7 linked regions of the Homo sapiens genome follow. The protein of the gene in region 2 interacts with the protein of the main gene of each other region in a pairwise test. Each region holds a gene or a part of one and is shown on either strand. Other genes may lie near its edges.

Evidence for each region.
Region 1: the proteins of GIGYF1 (region 2) and ANKRD10 interact in binary tests that used the Homo sapiens proteins (3 or more experiments, as listed by UniProt).
Region 3: the proteins of GIGYF1 (region 2) and TSHZ2 interact in binary tests that used the Homo sapiens proteins (3 or more experiments, as listed by UniProt).
Region 4: the proteins of GIGYF1 (region 2) and NFKBID interact in binary tests that used the Homo sapiens proteins (3 or more experiments, as listed by UniProt).
Region 5: the proteins of GIGYF1 (region 2) and TROAP interact in binary tests that used the Homo sapiens proteins (3 or more experiments, as listed by UniProt).
Region 6: the proteins of GIGYF1 (region 2) and SCAF8 interact in binary tests that used the Homo sapiens proteins (3 or more experiments, as listed by UniProt).
Region 7: the proteins of GIGYF1 (region 2) and SMARCC2 interact in binary tests that used the Homo sapiens proteins (3 or more experiments, as listed by UniProt).

The regions. Positions count from the first base shown.
Region 1 is NC_000013.11:110,891,070-110,894,569, forward strand, and holds part of ANKRD10 (ankyrin repeat domain-containing protein 10), read right to left. Parts: intron 3,325-3,500; coding exon of another isoform or gene 3,279-3,324; exon of another isoform or gene 3,134-3,278; coding exon of another isoform or gene 3,040-3,133; exon of another isoform or gene 2,195-3,039; coding exon 1,959-2,194; exon of another isoform or gene 1,623-1,958; intron 1-1,622.
Region 2 is NC_000007.14:100,687,751-100,691,250, forward strand, and holds part of GIGYF1 (GRB10-interacting GYF protein 1), read right to left. Parts: intron 1,806-3,500; 5' UTR 842-1,805; intron 766-841; 5' UTR 701-765; intron 558-700; 5' UTR 489-557; coding exon 454-488; intron 361-453; coding exon 231-360; intron 134-230; coding exon 38-133; intron 1-37. UniProt on the Homo sapiens protein: May act cooperatively with GRB10 to regulate tyrosine kinase receptor signaling. May increase IGF1 receptor phosphorylation under IGF1 stimulation as well as phosphorylation of IRS1 and SHC1.
Region 3 is NC_000020.11:52,975,358-52,978,857, forward strand, and holds part of TSHZ2 (teashirt homolog 2), read left to right. Parts: intron 1-3,500. UniProt on the Homo sapiens protein: Probable transcriptional regulator involved in developmental processes. May act as a transcriptional repressor.
Region 4 is NC_000019.10:35,897,741-35,901,757, forward strand, and holds the start of NFKBID (NF-kappa-B inhibitor delta), read right to left. Parts: upstream 2,801-4,017; 5' UTR 2,763-2,800; coding exon 2,702-2,762; intron 2,004-2,701; exon of another isoform or gene 1,967-2,003; intron 1,083-1,966; coding exon 979-1,082; intron 793-978; coding exon 732-792; intron 117-731; coding exon 1-116. UniProt on the Homo sapiens protein: Regulates the expression of IL-2, IL-6, and other cytokines through regulation on NF-kappa-B activity. Functions in the regulation of inflammatory responses.
Region 5 is NC_000012.12:49,321,802-49,326,054, reverse strand, and holds the start of TROAP (tastin), read right to left. Parts: upstream 2,801-4,253; 5' UTR 2,706-2,800; intron 2,452-2,705; 5' UTR 2,447-2,451; coding exon 2,303-2,446; intron 2,211-2,302; coding exon 2,018-2,210; intron 1,909-2,017; exon of another isoform or gene 1,901-1,908; coding exon of another isoform or gene 1,781-1,900; exon of another isoform or gene 1,667-1,780; intron 1,564-1,666; exon of another isoform or gene 1,479-1,563; intron 555-1,478; coding exon 397-554; intron 309-396; coding exon 171-308; intron 1-170. UniProt on the Homo sapiens protein: Could be involved with bystin and trophinin in a cell adhesion molecule complex that mediates an initial attachment of the blastocyst to uterine epithelial cells at the time of the embryo implantation.
Region 6 is NC_000006.12:154,827,416-154,830,915, reverse strand, and holds part of SCAF8 (SR-related and CTD-associated factor 8), read right to left. Parts: intron 1-3,500. UniProt on the Homo sapiens protein: Anti-terminator protein required to prevent early mRNA termination during transcription. Together with SCAF4, acts by suppressing the use of early, alternative poly(A) sites, thereby preventing the accumulation of non-functional truncated proteins.
Region 7 is NC_000012.12:56,175,984-56,179,483, forward strand, and holds part of SMARCC2 (SWI/SNF complex subunit SMARCC2), read right to left. Parts: intron 3,074-3,500; coding exon 3,014-3,073; intron 2,865-3,013; coding exon 2,827-2,864; intron 2,552-2,826; coding exon 2,421-2,551; intron 2,111-2,420; coding exon 2,039-2,110; intron 1-2,038. UniProt on the Homo sapiens protein: Involved in transcriptional activation and repression of select genes by chromatin remodeling (alteration of DNA-nucleosome topology).

The sequences.
Region 1 (3,500 bases), on a different chromosome or scaffold from region 2:
GTTAAGTGATCTCTTTTTAAAAATACTAAACAGAATTTAAGATTTATCAGCAATAAGAGAAAATGAAGCATAAATCATTTTTCAAGGACATTTAGACTATACAGTGACATACAGGGACAGACATGTACAATTCGTGCATGAGGGCATGAGGCCACTCTACAATACTAACCAGGCTTTAATTAAAGGAAATGACAAAGGATTTTTTTAAAAAGTGGATGCTCTTAAAAAGGCGTTGAAACTACATTAGAAAAAATATATTAAAACATGGTACAAATAAATGACAATGCTGAATACATCACCATTAAAAAAGACCATTTTGAATTTTATGCAGATCTTCATGTCATGCTTATGATTTTAGCATCTTTCCAGAAATGCTTAACTCATAAAAATCTTGAATTTGATAAAACTGTTAAGTTCATACATTACTATAAAAAGTCTTATCACAGGAATTTTTATGGTGACAAGATATAGTTGTGAAGTACATAATACTGACATTTTATCAACTTTATAGGGAAAAAATGTTTCACTTGGACACACTCATTAAATAAGGTAGAAAAGATGATGTTGGTTCATGAAATTTAACCAAAATCTCTAGATTTTTAAGTGATTAACTGATAGTCACTCAGTTTTCCTTATGCTGTAACTTGCACGGTTGATTTTTTTAAACCAACGGGCAAAACTTTGTGCTTATACTCAGCAAATCTGAGCTCATAATCTGCTTCATTACTTCACACTCCCACCTCTCCCCCTAAGTTCACTAAATATGCCTGCCAAGCTATCACATTTACCTTCTTATTAAGACTTTTTTTTTTTTTTTTTTTTAAATAGAGACAAGGTCTCACTATGTTGCCCAGGCTGGTCTCGAACTCCTGAGCTCAAGTAATCCTCCTGCCTCAGCCTCCCAAAGTGCTGGGATTACAGGTATGAGCCATGACAACTGGCCTAAGACATCTTATATATAGATATAGATGATTTTCCTATAGGAAAGGGAGATGTTTTCAACTTCAAGAGTGACTGGCTGACTGCTTATTTGCAAACTCAAACCTACCTTAAAAACAAAAAACAAAAAACCCAAAAAACGGCTAGGCACAGTGGCTCATGCCTGTAATCCCAGCACTTTGGGAGGCCGAGGCAGGTGGCTTACTGGAGGCCAGGAGTTCAAGACCAGCCTGGCCAACATGGTGAAGCCCCTTCTCTACTAAAAATACAAATTAGCCCAGTGTGATAGCATGCACCTGTAATCCCAGCTACTTGGGAGGCTGAGACAGGAGAATTGCTTTAACTTGGGAGCCGGAGGTTGCAGTGAGCCGAGATCACAGCATTGCACTCCAGCCTGGGTGACAGAGCAAAAAAAAAAAAAAAAAAAATGGTGGGAGAATACTTACAACGAAAATAACTTACCTTAGGGACTTAAATCCTCAAGATCAAATTATACACCAGATCTTGCTGTGATAAGTCAACACACATGTGAGGTACAGAGACCACTGAGGTCAAATCATAGTACAGAAATAGTACAGAAAACATTCACCTTCCCGAATGTGAAAATGTTTTACTGCCAGACCATCAGCAATTTTTATAAGCCCAGGAACATTTACAAGAAGCAAATTAAAAAAAAAAAAAAATTCAGGCACAGTGGCAGATTTTCTTTAATAGATATATTTCAAACAGATACAACAAATTAAAAAATCTAATTCATGGCAGGTAAACATGGGTGCTCAAAAAGTTCCACATAGACATTTACACTTGGGCCATCAGTATTTCCCTCACATTCCCTTTTGTTAAGTCCCATCTTCGCAGTGGCAGTACAGGAGAAATCTCCACCGTCACCGCACAATCCACCAGGCGCATTACCACCTGAAGTGAAGGTCTCATCTCGAAGGTGCGCTCAGCCATAAAAAGAAAACATATTACAGAAAGGAAAAATAAGTGTGCTCTTCCCACCCGCAAAGCGGTCTCACCTTCAGTTCTAGCTTTCTTTACTCCAAAGTCTTCTGAGTCTTCCAAGCATCTCTTTCGATTTGTTCCCACACTAATATGATTAGGAAATACATTCTGATGACCCCCATTTAAGATGCCATTGTTATAGAAATGGTTCAGATGACAATTCTGGAGGTTCAAGAGAAACTGGGCACACTCTTGGAAACCCTGGGTTTGTGCAATGTCTGCTGCTGTCAGGCCACTGGCATTTCTCAGGCTGTACAACACAAAAACACTGAATTACACCCCATCCGCGTGCTAACCTGGTCTCTGCTCCTGCTGAACTGACTAGCTATCTGAAGGTGGTATGAAAGAGTAAACAAATTCATAGCAAATCTTCATTAAAGAAGTAGTTAATCAATCTAGCTCTGTAACTAACTTCTCTTATATACATTTGATTTCTAAGCAAGATTTGGGAGATAAACTAAATATGCTAAACTTCTAAAAAAGGCATCTTCCTATTTAACTTCTCAAAATCATGTTTTATGTTAGTCTGAAGAATCTAAATTTACGCTAACTTCAGACTTGAAACTGAATTCTATATTATATGCACTTAATTTTAATACCCATTCCTTTAGCGTGAATAAAATCATAACAAACAACATGTACTGAGATTGTCCATGGCATTCATAACTGTCTTCCTAAAAACAAAGCAATGGCTCACCAACGAGCCAGCCTTCATGCTTACATGTGACACTGTAAGTGGAAGTTTAGAAGGATGTCCTGACATTAAAAAGTAGCCTATCATCAGATTCCAGAGCTGAACAGCTGTGTTTTTCTGTCAGATTTTGATTGTTTTGGCCTTGCTTGGGAAAACCTGCAGGAGTATTGTATTTTTGGCATTGTAGAGCATTTGAGTAGTTGGTTCCTTTAAAAAGGCTTTGAATACTGTCCTAAAAACTCATCCCTACCACTCACAAGAACCAAAGTTTTACCTGGCTAATAGTACTAAAAAGGAAAGGTCTGAGACCTCTACAGTAGCTAAAACTCAGATTCAAGTAGGAAGTGATGGCAGAGTAAGTGAAAGAGCTGAATAAAATAGAGTAAGTTGAACTTGTAAACCTTTAGACACTGAATTAAAACTGAGGGATCAAAAGTAACTCCATGTTGAAGTTCCCCTGGAAGACAAGAATGTACACTGCTCTGTGAAATAAACCTGTAAAAAAGCAGACATCCTGTTAGCTGCAGGTTGATAAACAAACGGGAGAAGTACTTAACAGCAAAGACAGCTTCCATACCTGTTCAGCAAGCTACACTACATCCACAGCAAAAGCATGATGAAATCAAGGCCTTGTGCTGTGTCACTCAAACAACCACTCCAGAACCCTGATGCCTTTCTTGGGGTTACTGTTAATGCAAAAAAAAAAAAAAAAAAAAAAAACCCCGCATTTGAGAGTGAAAACTACAGAATTAGGGACAAATAATATTTTCTTATTTATAAGGACTGACAATAGCCTTGTATTCGTTATTTGCAGACATCATAGAGCTCTGACCTTGGAAATGAGAAGTGTGCATGGACACTA
Region 2 (3,500 bases):
CAGGCTCCCGCAGCCTCAGCTCCTGGCCCGGTCCCACCTGTTCCTCCTCAGTCAGCGGCTCCAGAGCCAGGGGCTGCAGTGGCTCGTCCTGCAGCACCGCGGCGAACTCCTTGTCCTGCAGCTCTTCCGGGACCTGGCAGTGGGTTGGGACAGCCAAGACACCACATGCTGCCAGATCCCCTCCACAGGCAGAGGCCACCACCGCCAACCCCCCTCGCCCACGCACCCACCTTGTTCTCCTTGACGTAGAGAGCCAGCATTTCCTCTCGCCCATAACGGTAGTCAGCCAGCTTGTATTTGGGCATGGCAGGGGACGGGGGTGGGGAGGCCACGCTGCCGCCCCCGGACAGGGCCCTGAGCCTGGACACAACACAGAGAGAAGAAGACAGAGGTCAGGGCAGCCTGACTGTGCTTTCTCGAATCTCCACGGCAGCCGAGGCACAAGTGACTCACCACTCAGGCCCAAAGTTGAGTGTCTCTGCTGCCATCGTGGGGCTGGGCGTGTTTGAGAGGCCGGGGGTGGGGAGGAGGGGACCTGGCGTTCACTGTCCAAACACCTGTGGGGGAACAGGGGCCATGAAGAACAGCACACGAAGGAGAACTTTAAAGCGCAGGGAGGACACCATGGGGGACATCCTAGTGGGCACAACAATGGGCCCCGGACTAGCTGGTGGGTCACCTGGGGTCTAAAAGGACTCACCTGAGCCAGCCACGTGGCCACTCACACCATGAGTTACCCAGAGATGAGTCCAGACGGTGAAAGACCTGGGGGAGGCGAGGAGATGGGAAGCTCGAGTCCTTTCGGCCTCAGCAGGGCAACCACCCTTGGCCCGGGGCTCACCTGGCAGCCTGGCCCGGGAAGAAGGAGGGCAGGGGCTGGTGCTGGAGTGAACGAGGGTACCCAAGCCACTGGGAATTGGTCTGACCTCAGTAGAGCCTGGGAGGGACCTTCACATCTGGGAAAGACCCTTAAGGAGAGCAGGGGGGAGGAGGGAGGGTTCAGGACATGGCTCTGCCGGCAGCCCTGCCCTGCCCCGCATGACAGGAGAGGTCCATTCGCCGGATGGTGTCTCTGGGCATCAGCACCCTCGCCACCCTCTCTGGGAGGCTGAGACAGGAGGTGTAGTGAAGAACTCGGGGAGGGAGGCAGCCGAGGCCAGGATGGACGTTCAGGGCAAAGATAAAACAAAAACAAGCAAGCAAACAAAAACCCACTAGAGCCACAAATAGCTTACAGAGAAAAGGTCAGTTACGGAGAAAAGGATTAGAAATAAATCTAGGAGCAAAATTCTTTCCCTCATGAAAAAAATCAGTTGGCTGCTCAGAAGCTCAAATCCAGGGGCTTGGTCTGGGGAGAAACCCAGTGAAAAGGAGCAGGAGGTGACTCTAGGGCCACAGACGGGTACACGACAAGGACTCCAGGCAGGCAAGCCTGAGCCAAGGCACCTCGGGCTGGTTTCCCCCACAGGAATCACACCCAGACCACCGCCCCCAATCAATAATGGAGGCTTAAACAACCAAGCCACCAAGGGAACGAGGATCTCAGGATACCAGCTGGGAAGCAGCCTCTGGCACCATCAGGTGGAAATAAGGTCAGGGCAATGGAGGCTGATGGGGGCGCGGCGGCAGCCTGTTCCTCTAAGGGAGGATGGAGGGGACTTTCAGGAGGAGGCGCATCCCTGGGGCCCCAGGCAGAGGACTCAAGCGGGTGGGCGGGGTCCAGGTGCTGCGGTGTTGTCACTGGCTGGGAGGGAGGCTGGCCCGGCTTGGTGCTGCAGCTCCCATCAACTCCAGGACGCCACAGTCTGGGAAAGAAGAGGAAGCGGGTTCAACCAGGGTGCTGAGGAGGAAAGGCCATCAGCCCCAGCTGAGCCAGCAGCCCATGACAAGCCGAGGCCTGCTCAGAGTCCAGGCACTCCAGGGGGAAACACCGGGCTCAGAGGCAACCCAAGGCCAGGCTGGCCTCCCCTGGGACCTCTCCTTCCTCTGCCTCGGCTGGATGCTCCAGTGGTGGTGTGTTCCATGACATGAAAAGCCACCAGCCTGTCACTGACTGCAGGTGGCCACCTAGAGCAATCTGGGGACTGGATGAGCCTTGAGGACATCACGCTAAGAGAAACACACCAGCCAAAAAAGGAGAGCTACCCCTTACTTCTCTTTCATGAGGTCTCTAGAGCAGTCACTCATTGAGGGAGGAAGGTAGAAGGGCAGCCACCAGGGGCTGAGGGGACAGGGAGCTGTTGCTGAAGGGTCCAGAGCCTCAACTGAGGAGGGGATCCTGGGGCCGCTGGTGGTCATGGCCGCACACCAATGTGAGTGTACTTAGTAACACAGAATGGCACAATTAGAGACAGTTAAAGTCTCCAAATTTTGTTGTATATTTTACCACAATAATCATTTTTTTAAAAAAGCTTTAGGGAACAAAAGGTATCTGGAGATAACCACCGCATACCTAAGTTTTCCCCACTCCAAGAAAAACACCCCACATTCCTTCAAATCAGCCTCAGGAGAGGCCATTTTGGGCCTCCTCCAGTTCATTCCTTCTAGAAGGCCAGAAGCTCATCCTGGAGGCATGAGGGTGGGAGAGAGTAGAACAGAAAAGGGACCACCTGGCCAGCACAATGGCTTATGCCTATAATCCCAGCACTGTGGGAGGCTTGAAGAGAGGAGTCCGAGACCAGCCTGAGTAACAGAACAAGACCACGACTCTACAGAAACAATTCTAAACATTTTTTAAAAAAGAAAAAGTGGCCAGGCGTGGTGGTTCATGCCTGTAATCCCAGCACTTTGGGAGGCCAAGGCAGCCAGATCACCTGAGGTCAGGAGTTTGAGACCAGCCTGGCCAACGTGGCAAAACCCTGTCTCTACTAAAAATACAAAAATTAGCCAGTCCTGGTGGTAGGTGCCTCTAATCCCAGCTACTCGGGAGGCTGAGGCAGGAGAATCGCTTGAACCCAGGAGGCGGAGGTTGCAGTGAGCTGAGATTGCGCCCCTGCACTCCAGCCTGGGCAACAGAGCAAGACTCTGTCTCAAAAAAAAAAAAAAAAAAAAATTTAAAGCGATGGCCTCACACTGCCCCCTGCCAGGCGCAGCAAGGGCAGCTCTCCTAGGTGCCTCCGGCTCAAGTCACCCATCCTGGCTGTGTCTTGGCTGCAAGGGGCACACAAAGGGGGAATGGTTCATGCAGACTGAGGACAGCGACACCAAGACAGGGGAGAGAGCAGGCCCAGAGCAGGAAAAAGCCCATGCCACCCGCCTTCTTGGGAAGAAACCAGGAGAGTGAGGTTAACTCTCTAGGCACCCCCACAGCAGGGTCTGGTGCCGGAAGCTGATGGTGCCTGGCCCCTTCCTTGGACTAAAGGAACTAGTGGCACACCTGCAGGCCACCATGGGGCTCCCACCCTCCAACAGGTTCTGGACTGGGGGCACCTCTGCTCCTCAGGGGGCTCTTGGCCAAGTCTAGAGACATTCTGGGTTGTCACCACTGGGCAGGGGGTGCA
Region 3 (3,500 bases), on a different chromosome or scaffold from region 2:
TGCATTGCTCAGAATTGCTCGACTTTGATTATAATTATCCTACGATCGATAAGGATCCAGGTGTACGTAACATAACACTGTATCACATTATTTAAATCAGGTCCTTTTCATTAAGCTGTGTCTGTTGGTGCTGGCTAGTTTATTGGTGTGTGTGGGTGTGTGGGGGTGTGTGTGTGTGTGTGTTAGAAACTTGTAACTATAGTTTCAGTTTTCTGGCCTATTATATTCCTACTGTCTTTGTATGTTTGTTTTGTATGATTCTTATTATTTTCACCAGAAGCGGAAACCCTTTTTAAGCTGAAAAAGGATGATTCATTTCGTACACAGTGAGGGCCCTCTTACCTTATTTATTTGCTCACATATTAATAGAGGAGACAGTTTTTCATGCAGTGTTTCTTCTGTTCATCTAAGGTCATCAATGCCCTACTCTATTTCAGCTGAAGTGGTTATTCACAAGTAAAGTTAGCCACTTTGGGGTTCTGTAGTCAGTTAACATCCAGGGAAGGGGAGAAGGTGGGTTCTAAGATTATGGCCATACTAACTTTTATCACTGCTTAAAATTAAACACAATGCACAACTGTAAGTAATTACACCCAAGGACTGATGTTGAAAGCTTGATTTCTAGCTTGATTAATGAATAATGGGAGATAGAAAAAGCCTGTGAGTGGATCCGAGCTGAGGCTCTCCCGGAGCGCTCTTTTTCCCAAGAACTGTTCCAGGCAATTTGATTCCTTTGTATTATTAGTTATAAGTTCCATGTTTCAAGGAATCAATTACAGAACTTTCTACTAAAGCAGGTATCTAAACAGAATAAACAAGATGATATTGTAAGTGATGAGGAATTTTAGTCTTTATTTGTTATGTTCCTCCCCCTTCAGGGGGAAGGGATGTGAGGGGACAATTCTCTTTAAGGAAACAGCTAAATCAGAGTATTTCCCTCTGAAATGTCATTCTTCCTGGCTTTCTTAAGCTATGCTATTCCACCATACTATTACTTAGGGCAAGAAAAAAAAAGTTGAGAAAGCAGCCTACAGTACCCCAGGGGTTTGTGTTGTGTGTGCATGCTTGCTTCCTTGGATGTATATTTCACTCACCATTAAAATACATCCACTATTACCTGAAAATATTGCAGGATTCAGTACCAGCATTTTCCCCTTCTATGCATTTCAAGGGAGATAGAGAAAATGGCAGGAAAGTAAAACAGAACGGTGTTTTGATTTGTTTGCATTTTGCAGGATGCAGAGTGGTTAAAAATTTAAAATTGTAGACTTAGAATCTAACTCTTGATTTTCTACAGCCTATCTCAGCCTCTGTGCGCGCACATAAATAATACGTATTTTATTTCACCATACTGAACTGCTTTTATATTAATGACAGCCAATTGCAATAGAACACACAATCTTTTGTGAGCACATCTTGTGAATATATCTTTTATATATGTAAGTTATAGGATTCTGCCCCTGCCCACCCAAAGCAATTAGATGTTTCCCTCTTGCTGACTCTTAAAGGCTTTCTGATCACCCAGATCTGAAGAGTCTTGCAAGAAAGAACAGCTCCCTCAATTTATTTTGTTTATTTAATATGGAGATGAATAATGCAGATTTTGTTTTCATGAATGTCCTTGTGTGGCAGTAAACATTAGACTATTAGCAATCATTACTTAAAAGTTGCAATTTGCACCTTAATAACACAGGTTATTTACATGGGAAACATAGTCAACAGGGACAACTCTGAACACTGCAACAGAGCAGAAATGACCTCAGAGATCTCTTTTCCACCTCTTGATAGTGATGACTCTGAATTAACCGGTGAGGTCCCAGAAATCTCAACCAACAGGATGGAGGGAGGGGGCAGGCAGCTCAGGGCGAAGTTTACCTTTAATTTACTGTCAAGTGGGACAGCTTTCAAGAGACTAGGAATCGGGTAGATTTGGGACCCTTCCTCCCTCACTTTGTTTAAACATCCTTCAGAAAGACAAGTTCACATCTTGAATATTTAAATATCTCACGCGATGGATTCCTTCACTTGCCCAAAAGTATGTTTTTAACAAATGAATGGAAAAATACACACACACACACACACACACACACACACACACACACACACACACACGCATGGACACAATAAAGTCCAAAGGGTCTTAGCAGCACAAACTCTTTTGGCCATTCTTGTTACTTAAGGCAGATATCTGAAAAAGGAAGGATAGATTCCTTGAAATCGCTTGGTCCACACAACATTTTGGACGGAAATTGATTGCTTAAGTGGTCCTTTTCCCACCCCCGTCTTGATTTCCTTCTTCCACCTCTCACCTCACCCTTAAAGACTCAGACTGAATAGGACATCTCAAAAGCCCATTTGTTTTAGGCATTTATTGATTTCATTTTTAATCTGCCATATCAGGACACAATACGTTAACCCTAATCAGCAGATTACAAGTGACAGAGAGTTTAGTGGAAACTCTGTAAGGGAGCAGGGGCTCCGGGAAACTTCTTGACAATGAAAATCTTCTCTGAGGCTTAAGAGTTTGGATGCTGAAGATTACTTTTGGGGAGGGGAGAAACATTCCTCAGAAACAGTCTACATTTTTTTCTTCCACTTTACATTTCTTTATCTCCCAGTTGCCCATTCTACTGCTACACTTTGGGAATGCTTAACACCCAAGAAATACCTCCCAAGTATTTTTAGGAGGTCGGTCCCTGAAGCAGCTTGACTTTTGTCATAGTCTCCAACGGACGTTTATGCTTTCATTTCATCCCAGCTGATTTCTCATTCATTTGACGGAATTTCTCCAAAGGATAATACCTGAGTTGATCTGTTTCTTTTCCCAGGGCCTTGGGAATTGTGCTGTCCATTGAATGGGTTTTGGTCATGGGGGTGGGGGCACAGACTGAGCCTGGCATTTTTTAAAGCCATTGAAATGATGCCTCACTGTTCATCACTGCAGCTGAGCTTATCAAGTCAACCAAGAAGAAAACCTAGGCCCTGGTCACGTTTGTGCTATGCCTGTAATTAGCTGACACGAGGTAAATGTCCAAAGTCGACCTTCCCTTCCATCACTGTATTTATACTATCAATTTTATTTGGGAATGTCATGGTCTGGGAAGACTCAGCCACTATTTCGAAGGCAATGCCTGCTTCTACCTAGGTCCCCTTTAAAAAAACACAGAAATTGCCGAACAAATTCTATATTAAGACCAGGCATACACGGAGTATCATTTTCGTTTGATGCAAAGTCAGTTGGAAATACATTTAACTAACAGTTAAATAGTGTCTTGCATCGCTTCCCTGAAGCAGTGGTTTTTCATTACATATTTAATTACAATCAAACTGAACGACTTTTATTAAAAAAATCACAGTGGTATTAAAAGAAGCCTGGCGCACAAATAATTTTATTGCTTCACAAGTTGAGAACGCTTTTATATTTTTATTTCTTTGAGAGAAATTTATTTTAATTTTCTAATGTTGTGATAAATACAGACTATCTTTTACTGTAGTCTGTA
Region 4 (4,017 bases), on a different chromosome or scaffold from region 2:
GCAAGAGTAGGGGCTGTCAGTGTAGGCAGCATGCGTGTTGGGGTCCCAGTCTGGAAAGCCCAGGCTGCTAGGTCCAGAACCCACAGTCTCCGAGTGTGCTGGGAAGGGAGGGTGGCCTGCGTGTAAGAGGAGGGGCAGGGGCAGGTCTGGTTACCAGAGTTGGGGACGTCACATCCAGGGCTAGAGGGCCTGGCGTCTCCCAAGGTACTGAGAGTTAGTACTTCTGGGACACCAAGCTCCCGGGACCTGGATTCCTGGGACACTGAGGAATTGAGGGCCTGGACTCCTGGGGCACTAAAAAGGCTGAGCCTGGGCCCTGGGGCTCCGTAGGACTATGTGCATAGACTACTGGACTCAAGAGAACCTAGGAAATCAGACTGCTACTGAGTTCCAGCAAGAATGAGGGCCTACCAGCCTAGGCAACATAGCCAGACCCCGTTTCTACAAAAATTTAAAAAATTAGCCAAGCAAGGTGGCATCGCCTGTGGTCCCAGCTACTTGGGAGGCTGAGGCGGGAGGATCACTTGAGCCCAGAAGGTTGAGGCTGCAGTGAGCCAGATAGCGCCACTGCACTCCAGTGCCAGGGCAACAGAGTGAGATCCTGTCTCAGAAAAAAAAAAAAAAGGGAAGAATGAGGGCCTGACTCCCAGGTGTCCCAAAGTTCTGAGAGCTGCGATGTCTGAGTCCCTTAGGGAAGGGGGATGGGGAGGCCGGGAGCTGAGAGAACTTACCAGTCACAGCCTCATTCACAGATGGGGTCAGGGGCTGCTCTGGGGGAGGGAGAAATTGTCCCTGTAGAGACAAAAGCAAAAAGGAACCCAGGTGACTTTATCTGGCAGATTCCTCCGGGTCTGTCTCGGATCTATAAGACATTTCGGTCAGGACCACCCCTCTCATCAGCCCCGAGGGCCCGGCAAGCCGCTGAGTCCCTACGGGACAGCACGGGGCCTCCGGAGAGCTGTGGCTCCCTGGCCTCACCTGCACCCCGCCAGCGTCGGGCTGCTGCTGCTGGCGGCGCCTCTGCTCTTCCAGAAGCTTCTTCACGGTTTGCGTTGGGCAGTGGCTGCGCTCACCCCTGCTCACTGTGCGGGAGAGGAGAGGGGGAAGTCATCAAGGGTCCTTAAGTCACCTAAATGCCGCGGGGGTGGCGCGCGGGGAGTGGGTTTGGGCACCCTCCTCGCCCTCCCGCGCGGAAAAACTGGCACATAGATGCCGCCTGACTCCTCCAAAGCCATTAGAAGATTTGGGGTGGGGCATCCGCCTCCGCCGTTTCCTTCCTTTTGCTCCGCACTTTCCCTCTGACCCAACTTTCCACCACCGTCGCGGAAAGTGAGGAAGGGGGAGGAGGGCACCCCTCTGCAGCAACCACCCCACTTCCGTAAAAAAATTCCACCCCCAGATATCCAAGTTTTGAAGTCAGCGGGTTGGTGGGGGGCCGGCGCCAGGCGTCACTCCCTAGACTCACATCCAGGTTCCCAACATTTTTTTCCCTAGAACCTGACCCGGAAATCAGGAGTCCCCAGCGCCCCTCCTCGAGAAGTCAAAGGCCTCACCCCGGGCCGGGAGCGGTGGCTCACGCCTGTAATCCCAACACTTTGAGAGGCCAAGGGGGGCGGATCACCTGAGGTCAGGTGGCCAACATGGTGAAACCCCGTCTCTACTAAAAATATAAAAATTAGCCGGGCGTGGTGGCAGGCGGCTGTATATCCCAGGTGAGGCAGGGGAAACACTTGAACCCGGGAGGCGGAGGTTGAGGTTGCAGTAAGCGGAGATCGCGCTACTGCACTCCAGCCTGGGCGACAGAGAGAGACTCCATTAAAAAAAAAAAAAAAAAAAAAAAAAGGCCCATCCATACAGTCTCTTTTTCAGGCCCCAGGAATCTGGACCCTCAGTTCCTTCCTCTCTAGGACCTGGGAGCCCCAGTTCCCAAACTCCTTCCCACGACTCAGAAAGACAGAACCCTCACCCTTCCGAGCCTGGGTTCCGGCGGAGGAAGGGTTAAGTGGGGATTGCGCGGGGCGGGGGCGGGAGGAGGTGGCTCGGAAACAGCCCCGACGCGGCGCGCTGACGCCACGGCGCTCACGCAAGGGAATCTTCCATCCTCCCCTTCCCCCCAAGTCCTGTGCCCCAGGTGTCCTGCTCCGAGGCGGGGCGCGCGGCCGATCGTGGCGCTCGTGGAATCCCCGCGCAAGGGGAATTCCTGCTCAGCCCCGCACGGGTGGCCATCCGGAAATCCCAGGGCGGGGCAGAGGCAGGGTCACCGCCAGCGTAGACCCTGAGGCCAGGCTCCGGACCCTTCCCCACCGAGACCCACGCCGATTTTAAGCAACCACGCCCCCCCCCCCCCCCCCCGCACTCAGCCTAGTCCCTGCTTCTAGGGGTAGGAGTCTCGGTTGCCAGCAACCCCTAGCACCTCCAAGGACCCAGAGATCCAGCCTCCCAAGCCTCCCAGCCCTTGCACCCTCGGGGCCCTGCGATCCTGGATCCCCAGGCCCCTGCACCCCCAGGACCCAGAAGTCTGGGATCCCAGCCGCCCCTCTGTCACGATCCACGATCCCCTCCTCCTCCAAACACCTAGGGCCCTCACTCTCGGGATAAAGGACTGACGCTTCAGCTCCGTCCCTCAGGGCCTCGGGAGTCTTTCGATCCTCAGTCCCTCACTCTCTTAGGGGGCCGAACGCGTCCTGCCCGCGCCCATTACCTCGGGGATTCCGTGGCGTGGATTGCGGGCCCCCAGGGCCGCGGCCTCGGCGCTGCGCCAGCCTCGCTGTTTCCCCCGCGGAGCCGCCGCCGGGTCCCCGATCTTGGGTCCGGTACCCGCGAGTTTTTAAACTAGGGGTTATGGCACCGCCCAGTCCTGGGCAGGGCCCGCCCACAGGCCTGGGAGTCCCCGGGTCGCGCTCCGGCGAACGCAGTCCCTGAATGGGCGCGGCGGACTTGGGAGGCGGACTACTCAGTCCCCCCGGGAAGGAGGGAGCTGGGGTCCAGATCTTTGCTCTGAAGGAGCCTAGGGCACCGGGCTCCAAGAGGAGGGAGAAACCGGGGGGCCTGGATTTCTTTTCTTTTCTTTTTCTTTTTTTTCTTTTCTTTTTTTTTTTTTTTTTTTTTTGTTGTTGTTTTTGAGAAGGAGTCTCTGTCGCCCAGGCTGGAGTGCAATGGTGCGATCTCTGCAAACTCCGCCTCCTGAATTAAAGCGATTCTCCTGCCTCAGCCTCCCGAGTAGCTGACACTACAGGTGCTGGACACCATGCCTGGCTAATTTTTGTATTTTTAGGAGAGATGGGGTTTCACCGTGTTGGCCAGGCTGGTCTCGAACTCCTGGCCTCAGGTGACCCGCCTGCCTTGGCCTCCCAAAGTGCTGGGATTACAGGCTTGAGCCATGGTGCCTGGCTGGGGCCTGGATTTCTGGGTCTGTGTCTAAGGGGGTGCTGGAGGCTTTGTCTCCTGGGTCCTGCCCATGGGGGTAGGGGTAGGAGTGGGGATGGAGATGGGGTGGGGGCAGGGAGAATATTACTGGGTCCAGAGGGAGGCAGGACTGGGGGTCTAGACTCCCAGAGGAAGGGTCTGTGGGTAAGGGTATAGGGTGTGGCTCAATTTCTCCCTCTCCCCTACATCACCCTTTTTAGAGGTCTGGTTTCATTTACTCATTCATCATTTAAAATAATTTATTGCAGCAGAGGAGGCATTTTGCTGTGTATTGTGAACTAAGCAGGCAGGAATTCCCAGCCCTGGAGCTGGCATTCCAGTGGGAGGCCACTCTCAGTTTCACTTGGTGACCTTTCACAGCACTGACCATGTTGGCCCTATTTCTCCCCTGCTTGCTTGCTTTTCTATTTTATTTTATTATTACATTTTTATTGTTAGAGAGAGGGTCTCATTCTGTCGCCCAGGCTGGAGTGCAGTGGCAAAGTGGTGAGATCTCGGCTCACTGCAACCTCCACTTGCCTCAGTCTCCCAAGTAGCTGGGATTACAGGAGCCTGACACCATGCCCGGGTAATTTTTGTATTTTTGTAGAG
Region 5 (4,253 bases), on a different chromosome or scaffold from region 2:
TGAAAACGGAATCAGAGGTGGACCCCAAACCCTCAGGCCTCACCACCAACCCCATCTCCCCCAGTAGGATCCCTTGCCTCATCATGAGGTACCTCTTCTCCCAGAGCCCAGCTTTGTCCCTGGAAGGAGCTCCCAGAAGCACCGACTATCAGCCCCTCAAGGGCACTCACCAGAGCCTGTAGCCTCTGGGGGCACAATGTCCGGCCTCGAGGTCCTGGTCCCTCCAGCCTAGAGAAGCAGGAAGCCCTGGCAGGGTCCAGTCGGTGGGTGGGGGTTCTGGGGGCCAAATATGCAGAGGCCCGAACACCCTGGGACACCAACAGAGGCTGTCAGCACTGCTCAGGATGCCCCCCTCAGTGCCCCCTAGCCTGGTCTCCTCACATCCTGTTTCATTACCTGGACCCTCTGGGTGGTGCCTCCCTGACTTCCTCGAACCAGTACTCTTTTAGCCAGACTAGGCTGGCGCCCCAGGTGACAGCTCTTCACACCCTCACCTGACAGGATGGTGGCCAGGGCTGCAGGGTCAGCCACAAACTCTATGGTCCCTGGAGCCTCTGCAAGGAAAGAGGAGAAGGAAAAGGAAGGGGGAAGGCTGAGGGGGATAGGGCCCCTAGCATAGGAACTTTGAGGTACAAGGTGAGCAAGAGACTCATTCAATTGAATTTGGCTTATTTTTTTTTTTTTTTTTAAGAAATAGATGGCTGGGTGCAGTGGCTCATGCCTGTAATCCCAGCACTTTGGGAGGCCGAGGCGGGTGGATCACCTGTGGTCAGGAGTTTGAGACCAACCCGGCCAACATAGCAAAACCCTGTCTCCACTAAAAAAATACAAAAATTGGCTGGGTGCGGTAGCTCACTCCTGTAATCCCAGCACTTTGGGAGGCTGAGGCAGGTGGATCACCTGAGGTCAGGAGTTTGAGACCAGCCTGGCCAACATGGTAAAACCCCATCTCTACAAAAAACAAAAACAAAAAAAAATTAGCTGGACCTGGTGGCGCGCGCCTGTAGTACCAGCTACTCAGGAGGCTGAGGCTGGAGAATCACTTGAACCTGGGAGGTGGAGGTTGCAATGAGCCAAGATCGTGCCACTGCACTCCAGCTTAGTGACAGAGTGAGACTCTGTCTCAAAAAAAAAAAAAAAAAAAAGAAAGAAAACAAAAATTAGCTGGGTGTGGTGGCAGGTGCTGGTAATCCCAGGTACTCGGGGTGAGGCATGAGAATCGCTTGAACCTGGGAGGTGGATGTTGCAGTGAGCCGAGATCATGCCACTGTACTCTAGCCTGAGGGATAGAGTAAGACTCTGTCTCCACAAAAAAAAAAGAAAAGAAAAAAAAAAAGAGAAAAAGAGATGGGGTCTCACTATGTTGCCTAGGCTGGTCTCAAACTCCTGAGCTCAAATGATCCTCCTGCCTCGGAGGAGTGTTGGAATTACAGGCGTGAGCCACCACACCTGGTCACCAAATGTTCATAGAATGTTACATAAGACACTATTCTAAGCACTGGGGTCCCATAAGAATAAGACAAAGCCCCTATCCTCAAGAGGCTATCATCAAACTATAGACAGGTAACAGACTCAAGCCAAGGTATATACATGTTATAAAAGAAGTGCTGCAAAGTATTAGGAGAACACAGAGCAACTGATTGTGACATGGGGAACTGGAAAAGGCTTCAGAAGAAGTGATATTTATTATTTATTTATTTATTTATTTTTTAAAGAGATGGGATCTCCCTCTGTCATCCAGGCTGGTCTCCAACTCCTGGCCTCCAGTGATCCTCCTGCTTCAGCCTCCTGAGTAGCTGTGATTACAGGTACAAGCCATGGCACCTGGCGAGATGACATTTTGCTGGAGGAAAGGGAGATCTTCTAAGAGCAAAGAGCTTTCCAGGAGCTGGGACCAGGACTATCACAGTAAGTAGGAGACAGCAGGAGTGAGTGCAAAACCCCAAAACCCCACTTTTACCCTTCCTAGTCCCCTACTCAGCCATGGAGGCCGTGTTACCATGGCTCCAACAGGTACCTGTCTGGGCAGGGGGCCCAGGCCCCACATTTTGACCCCTAGGGCTAGGCCTGAGCTCTTCCAAGGGGTTCCGAGGCTGACTGATCCCCACCAATCTTTGTGATGTCTCTGCCTGGTGCCTGGCTTTCGGCCTGGGGCCTGCTGAATCAACGAGGGGGCGTTGAATATTGAGCGGTGGTTTCTGCACCCATCTCTAGGGGAGGGAGCGGGGACAAAAAGGTGAGGTTTAGTGTTGGGGTGCATTACTGGTGTGACTACTGTCTTCCCCCATTAGGCCCCTCTTACCCTTGGATCTTGGTTCTCCTGGTCCACGGCGCACGATGTAACAGTGGGGAAAGGCGTGCGTTTCTGAGAGCGTACCGGAATCTTGCTAGGGGTAGGAGATACACCCCGGAGGAGGGGATCCTTCGTGGCTTGCCGGGTGGTCATGATGGCTACAATTGAGACGGGGAAGAAGGCAGGCAGAATCTAAGATCAAAGATCAACCAGTTCTCGGGGCACCTGTCCTGCCATCCCTGATACCTCCGCCCTAATCCACGCGCCCACAAGCCCCCGGCGCCTGCAAGACCGCTCTTATGGGTGCTATCTCCAGACACCCCGAGCCTACTCTTTCGCCCTCGGGCCCCAAACTGCCCTCCTCCCTATGAACCCAGCAGCCTTCGTTCCCTTCAAGACCCCCGTGCCTTACCTTACCGAGGCCCCTCAGGGCCTACCCAGCTTCCTCCGCTTTTCTCCTGACCCTCTCGGGTGCTGCTGGAGCTACTTTCTCAGTTTGTAAAATACGCCAAGCTCTTGATTGGCCCGGTCGCGCTCCCGCGGAGGCCCGCGTAGCCAGACTCAGCCGTCCAATCCGCGGGCATCGCAGGAGGGGCCAAAAGAAGGACCAATTGTCGAACCGCTTTCTGGCGAGGAAAAAAACTGACTCGGATCAATCAGCCAATCCGAGAGTGGAGCGCCGCTGGGAGGCGGGGAAAGAGGAAGGATGGGGCCGTTCCGAGGCCGGGGAAGGCGTAGCCACGGGAGCTCTCGCGAGGCCTCAGGACCGGCTAGGGGCCGGCCATTGGCAGGACCGGGCGAGGTCGCGGTACTGAGGGTACAGTTGATCGTTCCGATTGCTGCCAACGGTGTTGAAGGCTGGCCCGAGCCCCCGACCCGGCTTGACCATAGCACGGCGCCAAGCTTTGGGGACGCCATTCCAGATGCCCATAGAAAATATCTGCGTCCGGGCGCGGTGGCAGGCGCCTGTAATCCCAACACTTTGGGACGCCGAGGCGGGAGGATCTCTTGAGCTGAGTTTGAGACCAGCCTGGGCAACATAGCGAGACCACTCCCACCCGTTTCTCTACAAAATAATAAAATAATAATAATAATCCCTGTGCAGTGGTGCGCGCTTGTAGTCCCAGCCGCTCTGGAGGCTGAGGCAGGAGGATCGTGTTGAGCCCAGGAGGTTGAGGCTGTAGTGAGCTGTGGTCGCGCCACTGCACTCCAGCCTGGGCAACAGAGACCCTGTCTTAAAAAAAATAAAGAGGGAAAGAGAGAACATCTGTACGTTGTCTCCGGGATAAGGAACTGCCTTCAAACGGGCGGAGAGGGCTGGAGGGAATCGAACTGAGCCTAACAATATGTGTGCTCCTTGGAGCCTCACAATCCAGTGAGGTGTCTGATGAGGTGTCTTTCATTTTACGGGTAGGTAACAAGACTCATTGTTTTTGAACTCAGTTACCACAGCACCAGAATTGAATGGCTACTCACAGCTGGGGATTTCCTTGCCTCCAGGTTGCCTTTTGCAGATCTAGAGGTCTGGGGAGAGGGGGCTCACCTGCTGGTTATTGGTGGGCAAGGCTGTGAGACTGAGAGATCCTAGAATATCCTGCTTAAGATGGAAGGGGTAACCCCTAACGGGGGACAGGAAATGAACAACACTTAACAGAACTCTGGTGGATTTTCCCCACCAATCACAGAAGTTATTCTTACACAAGCCAGAAACCGAGGAGTTACTCCTTAACTCCTCCCACTCCCTTTACATATCCCATCTCTCATTCACTCTCACTAGTTTTACTATTTATGCATTTTTGGGACAGGGTCTCACTCTGTCGCCCAGGCTGGAGTGCAGTGGTGCGATCTCAGCTCACCGCAGCCTCGGCCTCCTGAGGTGGGAACCTCAGCCTCTCAAGTAGCTGGGACTACAGGTGCCTGCCACCAGCTAATTTTTGTGTTTTTTTGTAGAGACAAGATC
Region 6 (3,500 bases), on a different chromosome or scaffold from region 2:
AAAGAGGAGAAAAATATATTTCAGATTTAATGAGTCAATTCATGTGCTAAGTTTTCTGGCAGTCTGAGTATTTAATTTAATGGCATCTCTGTATTACTAAGCACATTATATAATAACCAATGCTCAAATGACAAAAGGAGTCATCATGAATAGGCTAAATTACATTTAGAAAGCTTTATCCAAAAATAGGGAAAACTAACAATTTTCAGAAATATTTCACCAAAGATGTTAGGACCAGCACTCAAAAAAAGTAAATTCTAGTAACAAAAAAATTAATAATTTTCTAGGAATGCCAGATAAAGTGAATGTCTAAACATACAGAAATGACTAGTGCAGACTGAAATGTATGAGTATGAAAATCTGCCCAATCCCCCTGCAATTACAATGTACTAGGGTCCTAACATTCATTTAACATTACCTTTTGTCAGATGAAGTTAGAAACTCATCAGTTGAGAATACATAAGGTGGACTACAAATATGAAGCTATAAACTTTCCATCTTAAAGAATGGGTATAAATATCCCTAAGTGCATTTGTCACACATATTAAAAAACACAACCAGAGGAATACAAAATAATTACACAATTAAAATTTTTAGCCCAATATGTCACTTAGAATGCCGTAAAATCATACTTGGAGAACTTAGGAAATGTTTTATCTTCATATGTAACTCTAGATTACCTGAACAAACTGTTAGCATACAACAGAGCTACAAAAATAAAAACACCTGTGGTCATGCACAAGAATTAAGAGAATTAAATGAGACAGCAAAGGCAATTTGGATAGCATCTGGCACACAACTATTTCTCTTTTTCCATTAATTAACTGCAGATTTTCCAAAATTAGTGGACTAGGAAAAAATTGGGAGGTTGGCCCTAGGGTAAGCCTCTGTGAATAGTGAATTCAGAAATGACTTCTGAACACTTTGTCTAATTTTCAGAAAGAATAAACAATTCTTCCTAATGAACCAACAATAACAAAAAGAAAGACTTTTAAACCTATCTTTTTTTTGAGACAGTCTCTCGCTCGGTTGCCAGGCTAGAGTGCAGTAGCGTGATCTCGGCTCACTGCAACCTCCACCTCCTGGGTTCAAGTGATTCTCCTGCCTCAGCCTCCTGAGTAGCTGGGATTACAGGCGTGCGCCACCACACCTGGCTAATTTCTGTATTTTTAGTGGAGACGGGGTTTCACCATGTTGGCCAGGCTGGTCTGAAACTCCTGACCTCGAGTGATCCACCCACCTCAGCCTCCCAAAGTACTGAGATTACAGGCATCAGCCACCATGCCCGGCCAAATTTTAAAGCTATGTAAACACTGAAAGGGAGAAAAAGTTTAAGAATACAAGGAAAATGAATTAGATAATCAAAAGTTAAAACCTTTATATATCACATACACTCTTCAGGTCTAATTTTTGAGGTAGGCTTGCCTGAATTACTAAAGGTTTTTTCAGAAGCTTGGAGAATTACTGTACATAAAGAGTACACTAGAATGAAAAAATTATTAAAAGGGTATATTTAGCATTTCTGTAACGTCCAATGATAGAAAAAAGGAAATGAATAAATGTCTATATTTACTGTTGCATTACATTACTTTTGAAATGTCTATTCTAGTAAAGAAAATACAGATATCAAAACCAAGTAAGCTAGAGTGCATATCCCATAAAAATGTAAAAAAAAAAAAAAAATCACTTATGAAACTGGCACCACATCTACAAAGAAAAGATTTATTTCAGGTAACCCTGATACACAATAATTTGATTATACATTATTTATTAAACTTTTATGTTCAGGGGTACATGTGCAGGTTTGTCATATAGGTAAACTTGTGTTTGTTATATAGGTTACTCATGTAACAAACAAATATTTATAGATACCTGCACATGTACCCCTAGTTATGATTATACACCTTTGGGATAAAAAAAAAGTGGCAGAAAAATCTTAGTGTCATCTGGTAGCCTTGTTGGCAGTAACACTACTTTCAAACTACTATGTGTATGTCTATATTGTATGAAAATGAAAAGCAATCACGTTACTGTTTTCAGTATATGAGAACACAAGCAAATATAAAAATCAAAGTAGCTAATTTCTTTAATAATACTTCATATTCATTTTTTTCTGTTCAAAATGCACATTTTCTAGTTTTGTCCACTAAAAATTCCTAGACTCGACGAAAACCCAAGAGCAAAATGAGAATCTAGTACCCAGACTGAGTTCTCTAGATACCATACCCCAACTGGAAAAATGGCTGATTCTCAGATTGGAGGGAGGAAAACACAAGATTTGTCTGGGATATACTGGGCCAAAAAGCTAAGTAGCTCTCAAAACTAATGTGACAGGGAGGCAACACAGGTCTCCCACCGTCCAAAGATGAAACAATCTACACTTCAAAAAAAGAAAAATGCAACTGACTAGAAGTAAAAATCCATTAATCCATAAATACTAAAGAAACTGAAGGAGAAAAAAAAAAGGGAGAGAGGGACAAGGGAGGAGAAGATGAAGAGAAATGAGAAATCTCTCTTTGGTCACTGGGTATCACTGGAAATACCTATAGATCTCATGACTCTGAGAAATGGCAATTAAAGAAAAAAATAGCATCTACCCTGACTTTGCTGTACCAACCACACTTCAAGGTAACTAAGTACCATTACCTGATTAAGGAAAACTTTTTCTTCATTTAAGTTAAGAAACATGGAAGGAATTATACATTTAGAAAGATCACCACTCTGCAACTAATAAAAAGTAGATCTAAGAAACAATGATCAATGGATGAAAGGAAATGTTTTTAATGACCAGGTTCTACTGTTCCACTAAATGTTCTGATCAATCTTAACATCATTAAAAGGGGAACAAAACACCAAGAGTGAATCAAAATGCAAACTAAGGACTTTGGGTGATAATGATTTGTCAATATAGGCTGGCTAATTGTAATATACGTACCACTCTGGTGGAGGATGTTGATAATGAGAGCCTGTGCAAGTGTGGTGGGTGGGGGCTTATGGGAATCCTCTGTACTTTTGGCTCCATTTTGCTGTGAACCTAAAAAACTGCTCTAAAAAATAAAGTTTTACACCGCCCCCCCCCCCGCCCCGCCCCAAAAAAGGTGTGGGGCAGGAGGACAAAAAGGCACTGCAAGACTTCTGATGTGATAGATAATACCAATCCTACAGCATTTTGCTTCTCAAGTATTCTTGCTAAAACAGGTGAACCGGAATCTAAGCAAGCCTTTGGTGCTAACTTCCATTTTACAGGAAATGCAAAGACAGTAATTTCAGTACCACAAAGAAGCAAAAAACCAAATCCATTATTTAAGCTCTTATATACAGAATGAACTGTTTCTTCAACAAGTCATGAAGCATTAAGAAAAGGAAGGGAGGACTGGGGCAGGACTGCACTAACATTAAGACATTTAATACACATAGCAAAACAAAAAACACACAAATAGGATGAGAGGACCTTCTCTGAATTTTGACTAAAATAAAACCAATCATAAGAGTTTAAGACA
Region 7 (3,500 bases), on a different chromosome or scaffold from region 2:
AAGTAGCTGGGATTACAGGTGCGTGCCTCCACACCCAGCTAATTTTTGTATTTTTAGTAGAGACGGGGTTTCACCATGTTGGCCTGGCTGGTCTCGAACTCCTGACCTCGTGATCTGCCCGCCTGGGCCTCCCAAAGTGCTGGAATTACAGGCGTGAGCCACCATGCCCAGCCATCATTTACTATTTTATACCAAGAGTTCAGTTCCTACTCCAACCCTGCCTGCATGTCATGTTGAATTCATTTCACCTGATCACTACTTTCTTTTCACACATACTGCTTTCTCCAGGAAGAGAAGGAAGAGAGAACCATAGCAAGCTATGAAGAAAAAACACGGAGGGACCCCCAGAGAGGGGAAGCTGTGGAATAGCTGGGAAGAAAACTTGTTCAGTTCTCAGTCTCACCCACCTCATCAATGTGGTTATCTTGAAGTATTCCTAACCAAAGAAGACTGCCATGTCTTATCCAAAGCCAAGCAGGTTTGGCCTGAGGCAAAATCTTTTTTTTTTTCTTGAGACGGAGTCTTGCTCTGTCGCCCAGGCTGGAGTGCAGTGGCGCAATCTCGGCTCACTGCAAGCTCTGTCTCCCAGGTTCATGCCATTCTCCTGCCTCAGCCTCCCAAGTAGCTGGAACTACAGGCGCCTGCCACCACGCCCAGCTAATTTTTTTTTTTTTTGAGACGGAGTCTCGCTCTGTCACCCCGGCTGGAGTGCAGTGGCGTGATCTCGGCTCACTGCAACCTCTGCCTCTCAGGTTCAAGTGATTCTCCTGCCTCAGCCTCCAGACTAGCTGGGACTACAGATGCATGCCACCACGCCCGGCTAATTTTTTTTGTTTTTGTTTTTTTGTTTTTTTTGAGACGGAGTTTCACTCTTGTTGCCCAGGCTGGAGTGCAATGGCGTAATCTCGGCTCACTGCAACCTCCGCCTCCCGGGTTCAAGCGATTCTCCTGCCTCAGCCTCCCTAGTAGTTGGGATTACAGGCACGTGCCACCACGCCCAGCTAGTTTTGTATTTTTAGTAGAGACGGGGTTTCTCCATGTTGGTCAGGCTGAGCTCGAACTCCTGACCTCGGGTGATCCGCCCGCCTCAGCCTCCCGAATTGCTGGGATTACAGGCATGAGCCACCGCGCCTGGTCTTTTTAGTAGAGATGGGGTTTCATCATGTTAGCCAGCATGGTCGCGATCTCCTGACCTTGTGATCCGCCCGCCTCGGCCTCCCAAAGTGCTGGGATTACAGGCGTGAGCCACCACACCCAGCCTTGTTCATTAATTTTTTTAGATACGGGGTCTTGCCGTGTCAGCCAGGCTGGAGAGCAGTGGTGTGATCATGGCTCACTGCAGCCTCAAACTCCTGGGCTCAAGCAATCTTCCCATTTCAGCTTCCGAAGTAGCTGGGACCACAGGTATGCCCCACCAGGCCCAGCTAATTTTTTTTCACTTCTTTAGAGATGGGAGTCTTGCTATGTTGCTCATGCTATTCTTGAACTCCTGGCCTCAAGGAATCCTTCTGTCTCAGTGTCCCAAGTAGCTGGGATGATTTACAGTCGTGAGCCACCGTGGCTCCTACACTTCTTTCCCAGTGAGCCCTCTCCATCCCTTAATTTATATAAACTGGTCTTCTATTAGTTCCTTCTCTTGTTTTTCTATTAAAACCTACTCTCAGGAACCAGCCTGGTAATAGTAATTTACACTTTAATCAAAACTTTTGTGCTAGGAATATCTGCAGTATAGACGATATCAGTAATATGGATTTAAAGGCTCTATACCCTGTTAAAAAGAAGTTGAGGCACTGGAGTAGGTACTTGTTATGTATAGAACATGCTTAATATCACCCTTGGGCAAATCCTAAAGAACATGTGTCTACATGCTAGGCCAGGGCTGCCTAAAGGCAGATATTGTGCCTTTGTAAGCCTAGCATAGTGCCTGGCTCATGGAAGATGCTCAAGAAATGTTTGCTAAACTGAATGTTACTGGATCAGGAAGGGTGAATGTGGGGACAGGAGGGAGAAGGAGAATCATGAGATGAGATTTCCTTACATCTCTGGAGTCTTGGACTTGTTCTTGCCGTTGAAGAACTCGGGGAGAGCCCTCCGCTCAATGGCATGAACACTGCAAGAAAAGCCAGAATGGTTTCAGAAGAAGGCATTGGTGAAGGGATGGGGGCCCCAAAGGGAGGAAAAGCCTAGAAGGCAAAGAAGGAAAAGAGCTCGAAATTGCTGAAGTTAGAAGCTTGGGGAGAACATCCCACAGGCTGTAAGACTCAAAAGGACACAAGGAGCTCCCCTAAAACTAAAGTGTACTCTGGTCTATTTGGGTGAGGAAAAAATAACTTATTTGGAGGAGGCAGGGAGAAGAACAGCCTGTTGACCCCTGGAGGCAGGGAAATAAGGACTCAGTGAGAAGTTGGGGACAACCATACCTATTGTAGTCAAACCAGGCAGCGTAGCTGGGAATGATGATGTGGTGGGTCTGTTCAGTCACATTGTCCTCATGCAGGTCTGGATTCTTGGTCTGCTCTCCCTTGTTCCCCGTACTGTTCTCATCCTCATCCTACGAGTATGGAGGCTGCTGGACACTCAGCATTCCTGCTTCCTCCCTAGCAACCCTCTGCTTCTCCCACACCCCAGGAATGTGGACACTAAAGATGGGTGATGGGACTGAGCAGTCATGGGCCCCAGGACTCTGAAAGGGTCAGAGTTTTGAACAAAGCTGGAATTAGTCTACAGTGGGTAAAGTCTGGGCAGTGAAAAGTTTGGGCAGAATGAACTTTATAATCACAAATCAGAATCACATAGAGAGGTAGGGCCTCTCTAAACTGGCTCCACCTTGCCCGTCGTCTCCATGCTTTCATCTTCCTGTTCATCTGAAAGAGAAAAACCAAGATGTAAGGCTGGAGCCTCCTGAGGGGCAAGAAAGCCCTACCAAAAGCCCATCAGGCTAGCGAAAAGGGGGCAGCTGAGCCCTCCCCTTCCCTTGGCTCTGACTGCCGTGCCCAAGAGGCTCCTGTCTTACCCAGGTCGGTCATGGTGCCGCCTTTGACTGGGGCCGACTCTGAGTCTTTCTTTGTGTTGACTGCGAAAACAGAGAGTCATTTTATCAGACAGATTTTGCCTAATTCAAGCCTTCAATTTAATAGTTCCAGACATCCTACTTTCTCCAAAAATTGTCTCCACCTGATTGCAAAATATAGTAATTCTCTCCAGTCACAATTATTCTAGGGCTTCAAACTTCTTGCTACTTTCCCCACTTCTCCAACCAAAAATTAATTTAACTTATTTCTCTATGTACATTCATAAATGATTCTTGTCTTTGACAGGCCTTTATCTCCATCTATGTATCTGTAAGCTTTTAATGGTCTGATACTGAATCTGACCAAATCACTCTGTGGAAGAATGGTTAAGTGTTAAACATTTTTGAAAGCAGAGGATACTTTCCTCAACTGAATTCATATACATATGCTCAGGAGCAAACATAGAGAAGAGAGAGAGCTGATTGATGA